Homo sapiens: one gene and its partner. The protein of the gene in region 1 purifies or fractionates together with the protein of each later gene. This does not show direct contact. Each region holds a gene or a part of one and is shown in the gene's direction. Other genes may lie near its edges. The genes, in order: SPAG11A and MANBA.

Region 1 (3,760 bases):
ATGGTGAGATATGGTTGTTGAGGCTGGTTAAATAACGCAGAAGACAGCTTGCAGAAAATATGATGTGTCTAATCTGAAGAATAACAAGGCTCTGCAAGCTATAACAAGTAATATAGGCAAGTCCAGAATGATATCTAGAGTCTGCTATTGCTTACATAAAAATGGGGTATGGATTCATCTCTGCTTCCATACACATGGGACACCTCTGGAAGGATTAATAAGAAGCTAACAGCAATTGTTATGAAGCCCAGGGGGATAGGAGAGAAGACATCCTTCTCTCTTGCCCCTTTTGCTTAAGAGAATTTTAAGGGAAATAAATCTAAGTGATCCTGGGACTAAAATCAAATAGGGGCAAAATGTGCAGCTTTATCCACTGTGTGTTTTAATACCACACATTATATAAACCCACACACAAAAATATCGTGTCCTTGCAGATTCTGTTTTCACAACTCCCAGCACCCCAGAGCCCACAAACCTCCCTCCAGCCCAGGATGACACAGCCCTGTGGTTGCCGGGGGCTCTCTGCATCCCTCACTAGACTGTCACCTCCGACAGCGGATAACTTCATCAAATGAGAGAAGAGCATGTCCTCTTCCTCCAAAGTAGACAATATCCTGGCTCTTCATAAATAGGTGAATTTTGCCAAATTTTTGGAATAATGTGGTACGTTGTCTCTGTTTTTTTTTTCTTTCAGCATAGCGTTTGTGAGGTTCATCCACGTTGTTGTACACATCTTCTTGTTTTTCTATTCTTGTTGTGGTGTGGAAATACATTGTGTTTTGTTGTTGTCATAATACACTATTTGGTTGCATTCTCTTGGCTGCAAGGAAATGTGCTACAATGAACGTTCGTGCACATGTCTCCTAATGCACGTGGGCCTATGTTTCTGTTGGTAGATGGGAGTCATGTTGCTGGGAAATAAGCTAATTATCTGCTCAACTGTGGTGGACACCGCAGCTTTCTGAAGGCAGAAAATATATCTTTACACAACCATGTCTCTAGCACCTAGCACAGGGCTTGGCACTAAGTAGCCACACCTCAATGTTGGTTCACTTTCCTCTTCAATATCCGTATATGGAATTATTGGTTGATCCCTGCTTCTCTGAATATCAGGAAGCCAGTCTATTTTTAGGCAGAAAGGGAAGAGTAGTCAGTAACCTTCTGCCCACAGCCTTACTCAGTAGAGCAGATAAATATGCTCATGCTGATCAGTATTCCCAAAAACCTATAAATGTCCCATTTTGTGCCTTCTCCGCTCCATTTCATTCCATCATTCATCATATTTGTGCTCCTTCACGGGAGGGCAGGGAGGTTCAACGGACCTTAAAACATGAAGGTCTTTTTTCTGTTTGCTGTTCTCTTTTGTTTGGTCCAAACAAACTCAGGTAAATGTCTCCTGGTTAGCCCTGGGGAAGGTAGTGCAGGAATTCCATTTATGTGTGTGTCTGTATGGACAGTGTGTAGATGTGTCTGTATGTTGTTAGTGGATGCAGGTGGGCCACTGTGGGGCTCAGTCTTGGACAATTTTGATCTCCCCTGTGAAGTTTTTTAAAAGCTAAATAAGTGTTATAAAGGTCTTGACACAAGACAAAGGGGTATGCTTGCTCTGATACAAGTGGCAAGCACTCACTGCAGTCTGAGAAAAGTTTTCAGAAGGAAGTTATAGTCATATGAATGTCAGAGCTGGAAGGGAATCAGAGATTGTCTATAGCAGCCCCATGCTCTACAAAAAGAAAACCAAAGTCCAGAGAAAGTGTTAATTTACCATGGTGCAATGAATCTTTATGGTCATAGTAGGTCTTCAAACTTATAATATTCCCCCTGCTTGCACATAGAACACATTTACAGATGGGCAAGCTGAAGTGTAACCAGTTAAATGAGTTGTCTAAGGAGACATAATGAGATATTGGAAGAAGTAAGACCAGAATCCAGGTCTCCACGCTTCCAGGCTGGGGGCTCTTCTGTCTTGACTAAAGGTGGACCCCCCACCTTCTTCACTTTGCTGTCTCCTCCAAGCTGTGACAGGGCTGAGATGATACAGAATCAGGGATTAGACCCCGTTTGGAGGTTGGATGTTGTGCAAGAGTGTTTTCCTAATCACGCAAGACCAACACTGTGCTGTTGTTGTTGTTGCTGCTGTTGTTGCTGCTGTTTAAAGTCATCGTACGTAGCATTTGCAGATCTGACATAAGTAAGATCTTTCTTTCAACCATCTCTTGCCCAATGTCCTGTTGTTATAAAAATTTAGGTGGTCATTTGTGACTTACAAGCCCACAGGTCCTGGTGAGGAGAGAGGTTTTATTTTCTCCTTTTCGTTGTAGGACATAAAACTAAAAATTGGGCCATAAGTTGAGAATGGGTTAATACCTCTAATTTCCTTAGAGACCAAGACCTGTCCTATTCTGGACCACTTCTGTTTTCCAAAACTCCCTTTGTTTCCTTCTAGTGCACATCTCTCACCAGGAGGCTCGAGGACCCTCATTTAAGATCTGCGTGGGCTTTTTAGGGCCTAGATGGGCCAGGTGAGCATTCATAAAACACACCCTATCATCCTCCTGGCAACATTTCAGATATAAATTATCGTTCCTGTTTTAAAGCTAAGAGGCCAAAGTTCGGTTAAACTGGGGCTTGTCCAAAAATACTTAGCCTTGTCAGAATATATAACCCTTGGCAGTGGGCTGGGTTCATCTTCTATTCTCTGCACTATATGAGTTAAATGTCAACTCTCTTCTGTTGTATCCATAGGGGATGTTCCACTGGGAATTAGAAATACCATCTGCCGTATGCAGCAAGGGATCTGCAGACTTTTTTTCTGCCATTCTGGTGAGAAAAAGCGTGACATTAGCTCTGATCCCTGGAATAGGTGTTGCGTATCAAATACAGATGAAGAAGGAAAAGAGAAACCAGAGATGGATGGCAGATCTGGGATCTAAAATATAAGCTCCCGGAAGGCAGGGATGTTGAAGTATCCCAAGGGCTTAAAGGAATGTGTGGCTTATAGTAGGTGTTCAATAAATATTTGTTGAATGAATTTAGCACCAAAGGTGAAGAGCTGATAAAAGACATTTTTTTAACTTCCTTACTTCTCCATGTACTGCCTTTTCAAAGGGGTCTCAGAATTTTGTGATATTCCACTTTCCTTTCCTAGTCAAGGGAATATCTCTTAAGTATCTGGAGATGGGAACTGACTAGAAACCGAGCTCCAAACTGATTTTCAGAGAGACATAAATGCAACCAATCTGCTGCTCTGTTTTCCATCTGATGACTTCTTTCTTACACACCCAGCACTAGCCTTCTCCTGCTTATTCACCCAGATGGTAATGCACCTTATCCCTTTTCCCTTTATGCGTCCTCAAGCAATAACACCAACAGGTCACATTTCAGTAGGATAGTGTTGTTTTCAAGCATTTACTCTTAGGCTATTTCAATTTATTAATACAACAAGCTGATAGTGTGTATAATAGGGGGTAAGCAGGTCCATTTTAGGAATGAAAGAAAAATGAAAATCATCAGGTGAAGCACATTTCCCCCAGGCTAGCAATTCATAAATGGCATTCTCAGTATGCCTATCAGCCAGCATTCATTCTTCTATGATCCTTCTAAAAAACATATTTCTGTGCAATTGGAGCAAGGCAGGGCCCCTGTTCATGGAGATTCCTGAATGCTTAGCTGCCTTTTGCCTTTCTCTGGATCCTGCTTGAATTTGTTGAATACTAATTCCAATAGTAGTGAACACCAATTACAAGTAAGGAATTTAAAA
Region 2 (3,824 bases), on another chromosome or scaffold:
AATTTTTAGGTGATAAATAGCTGTTGTTAATAATTTATTTTATGTTTGTTTTATTAATTTATTTGTGCATATTTAACCATCTACCATAATTTTTACCTTGTATCAACAGGATTCTTACTACAGATTTAATGACCTTAACTACAGATGGGTCTCTTTGGATAACTGGACCTATAGCAAAGAATTTAAAATCCCCTTTGAAATTAGGTATGTATGTTTGTGGGTGTATTTTTATTATTATTTGAACTTTTCTTCTTTTTCTATCTGGGCAAAAATGTTGTGTTTTGTTTGTTTTTTTTTTGTTTTGTATGTTTTGTTTTGTTTTGTTTGTTTAGGTTACATATCTGAGAGTTAAGTAAGATGAAAGCCTTGTACTATAAAAGTGAATATATTATTTATGTTTTGTTTTGTATATGAGGATGGTGCTACTAATCAACAGTCACCAAATTGTGTCTTATGGAGTCATTTTTCCAGTGGTTATGCCCTATGTAGTGCTAACCAGCCATTGAGACTATGACCTTGACCTATACTATGTGGTGAAGCCAGGAGGTGAAGCACAGATACTGTTTTCAGTAATGTTCTGTTATTATAAGCAAATATTTCCATATGAGGTAGAATGTTACCCAAAGGTACCACCACTACTGCTAAATGAAAAAAAAAATCCTTCTGTCCCTTTTATGTGATTTTTTTTTTTTGGTAATTATTTACTAGTCTTTTAAAGGGGGGAAAAGGCCAGAATATTGTTATCAATATCATGGAGTTACTGCTGTGCTCCAGGCTTTTATTTACAGATAATATTTAGAATATCTTTCGTAATGGTTCTATTTCACCTTGAACTCAACATATCCAATTGATTTTCCCCCTTAAAACTAACTTTATATTCTAACAGCTTCATTGTTTTTCTTGATGTAACACCATTTTCCAGTCTATGTCTAAGGTGCTTTGGGCTTATTACATCTTTTCTTCATCTTCCTGTGTTCAGTCTGTTCTGGGTGGGTCTTGCAAATTTTTGTTTAACATTTCTCTTGGTTTGGCCCCTTCCATCTCATTTCCATCTTTCCATCTTTGCCTAGAAGAGTGCCAGGAAAGAGGCCAAAGCTGCCTAATCAAATTTCTTGCTTTGTTCTTTTATTCTCCAATCTTTTCAATTTAGAAACATTAGATTAATCATCACAGAATATTGATTGTGCCAAGATAGGTATTCGTTCAAGAATAGCAAGTGTCTATTTTACTTGGCAAATCAAGTATAAACTTCTCACTTGTCTGTGAAAATACAGCTGAAAGATGTCTGTCCCTGTAACACTGCCCGCACCTCTCTGCCCCTTGGATTTGTCCAGCTTTTTCCTCCTTAGCTCCCCAGCCCAAATTACACATATGAGTCGATTACCTAAAAGTAATTCATGCTGTCAGCACTTCCTTGTTTTGGTTTTGCTCTTTGCAGGGGTAAGGGGTTCCTGCAAAGAGCAAAGGGTATAAGGGGAGTAGAAATGCCTCCACCCAGTCATTTCTACCTAGTTTTAAAAAAAATACTTTATTGATATATAATTAACATATTGTACAATTCAGTCATTTAAGGTATATAATTCAATGGTTTTTAGTATACTTACAGTTACAAAACCATCACCACAATCAATTTTAGAACATTTTCCTCATCCCCCCACAAAAAGTTACACCCATTAGCAGTCATTTCCCATTGCCCACTCCTCCTGCCCCTGAATTCTTACCCCAGCCCTAGGAACCACTAATTTACTTTCTGTCCCTCTGGATTTCCTTGTTCTGGATACCTCATATAAATGGAATCATACAATATGTGGGCCTTTGTGACCGCCTCTTTCACTTAGCATAATAATGTTTTCAAAGTTCATCCATGTTGTAGCATGTATCAGTACTTCATTCCTTTTTATTGTTGAATAGTATTTTATTGTATGAATACAACACATTTTATTTATTCTTCTCTTCATTAAGTTCTTGTTTCCATTTTGAAATCTTTTCTTATGAGATAAACTCTGATAGCACTTGTAGTTGTTCAACAATATTGCCAGCCAGCCACCAAATGCCAACCAGATTGCAGACTCCTTAAGTACAGGCACTGTTATAGTTTCCTGTAAGGCTTAGCAGAGTGCTGGGTGCATAATATTCACTTATAGATGATAGTTTTCTAACGTGTTCTCTTAGACAGGGTCAGTAAATGTAGTTTGTGAGAACATTTTATGTCTATTATTTAACTTGGTTCTCATTTTTTTTTTTTTTTTTGAGACGGAATCTTGCAAGTGCAGTGGTGGGATATCCACTCACTGCAACCTCCGCCTCCTGGGTTCAAGTGTTTCTCCTGCCTCAGCCTCCCTAGTAGCTTGGATTACAGGCACCCGCCACCACGCCTGGCTAGTTTTTTGTAATTTTAGTAGAGACAGGGTTTCGCCATGTTGGCCAGGATGGTCTCGAACTCCTGACCTCAGGTGATCTGCCTGCCTAGGCTTCCCAAAGTGCTGGGATTACAGGCGTGAGCCACTGCTCCTGGCCTAACTTGGTTCTCATAATAGCTTTCTGAAGTATTAACTAGAAAAAGTCAATATATTTGGAAATTATAAGTTGTGCTCTTGGTTTTATGGTGATTTATTGATACATTATAGAGAAAGATAAGCTGGATCACTCAAAGGACGTAAGTATGTTTTAAAGCAGTACTTCTGAAAATGTCACTGGAAACTGCCTTTTAAGAACATATATTTTTTGTGGAATATTTATTTCTTTAGGCCTTAAATAATAAAAAAGAGACTTATCTAAGTTAATGCTTTACACATCTTGTTTTAAAAATCTTTTCTTTTTTTTAGCAAATGGCAAAAAGTAAATTTGATTCTTGAGGGAGTGGATACGGTTTCAAAAATCCTGTTCAATGAAGTCACTATTGGGGAAACAGACAATATGTTCAATAGATATGTAAGTATATAATGACATTAGGTTAAAAAAAATTTATGTGTGTTTATGTTAATTGCTTTTGTGAGTAGAGAAAAGTAAATGCATAATTGGCCATGTGACAAATATGAGCTCATTAAAGCACTGGATGAGTTACTTGATTTCTCAGTTGCCACATTTGTGGAATAATGGAAACCTTACAAACCCCATGGGGTTAGTGTGGGGATTTAGTAAGCTAATTGTATAAAATGTTGGCAAGTTCTTGGCACATAGGAAGTGTTCAAAACATGCCAATCCCTCCTCTGCTGATACAGTTTCATTGGACAAATGATTTTAAAATAAAATGTCATTTCCTTTCTGGAATAGTTATATTAAGAGATTATATGCTGATCTTCCTTTCCTTTCAAAGGTAGACTTTTCAAAACAAAAATAACTCATTACTTAGAAATGCATGCTGTTCATACCGGAGAGGCAGGTTGTCATGAAGTGTCTAGGAAACCCTTGGCAGTTCAAGGCCACATATAAGTAGACAGAGCAGACATTCCAGAGCTAAAGTTATTTTTTGCTCTATCCATTTCCCTAGGACCATCATTTTGCCAGGAAAAATAGAAGGAGAAGCCTAGAAACTTGGATTGGGTAGGAAAATATGCTTAGTTTTAACTAAAAGTGGGCAACTAAGTGATAGATACTACAGTGTTTCAGAGAAGTGTTCCCTCCTGCAAGGAGGCTAAACCTAGATCGGCATTATATTATGTGTCTTTCATACAAAATGCCTTTATCTAAAATTTTACACACAAGACTACTTCCACATCATGGGTTTGTCTGATTGTTCCCTTTAACTTAGAGCTTTGATATTACCAACGTGGTCAGGGACGTGAACTCCATTGAGCTGCGTTTCCAGTCAGCGGTGTTGTATG

What was found.
Region 2: the proteins of SPAG11A (region 1) and MANBA purify together in Homo sapiens (affinity purification with mass spectrometry, with the first as the bait; one large-scale study listed by BioGRID). This does not show direct contact.

Annotation. Positions count from the first base shown.
Region 1 is NC_000008.11:7,857,901-7,861,660, forward strand, and holds the end of SPAG11A (sperm-associated antigen 11A isoform 3 precursor), read left to right. Parts: intron 1-1,330; coding exon of another isoform or gene 1,331-1,385; intron 1,386-2,446; coding exon of another isoform or gene 2,447-2,522; intron 2,523-2,745; coding exon 2,746-2,933; 3' UTR 2,934-3,043; downstream 3,044-3,760. UniProt on the Homo sapiens protein: Has antimicrobial activity against E.coli. Plays a role in the defense response in the male reproductive tract, contributing to sperm maturation, storage and protection.
Region 2 is NC_000004.12:102,722,969-102,726,792, reverse strand, and holds part of MANBA (beta-mannosidase precursor), read left to right. Parts: intron 1-109; coding exon 110-204; intron 205-2,825; coding exon 2,826-2,931; intron 2,932-3,751; coding exon 3,752-3,824.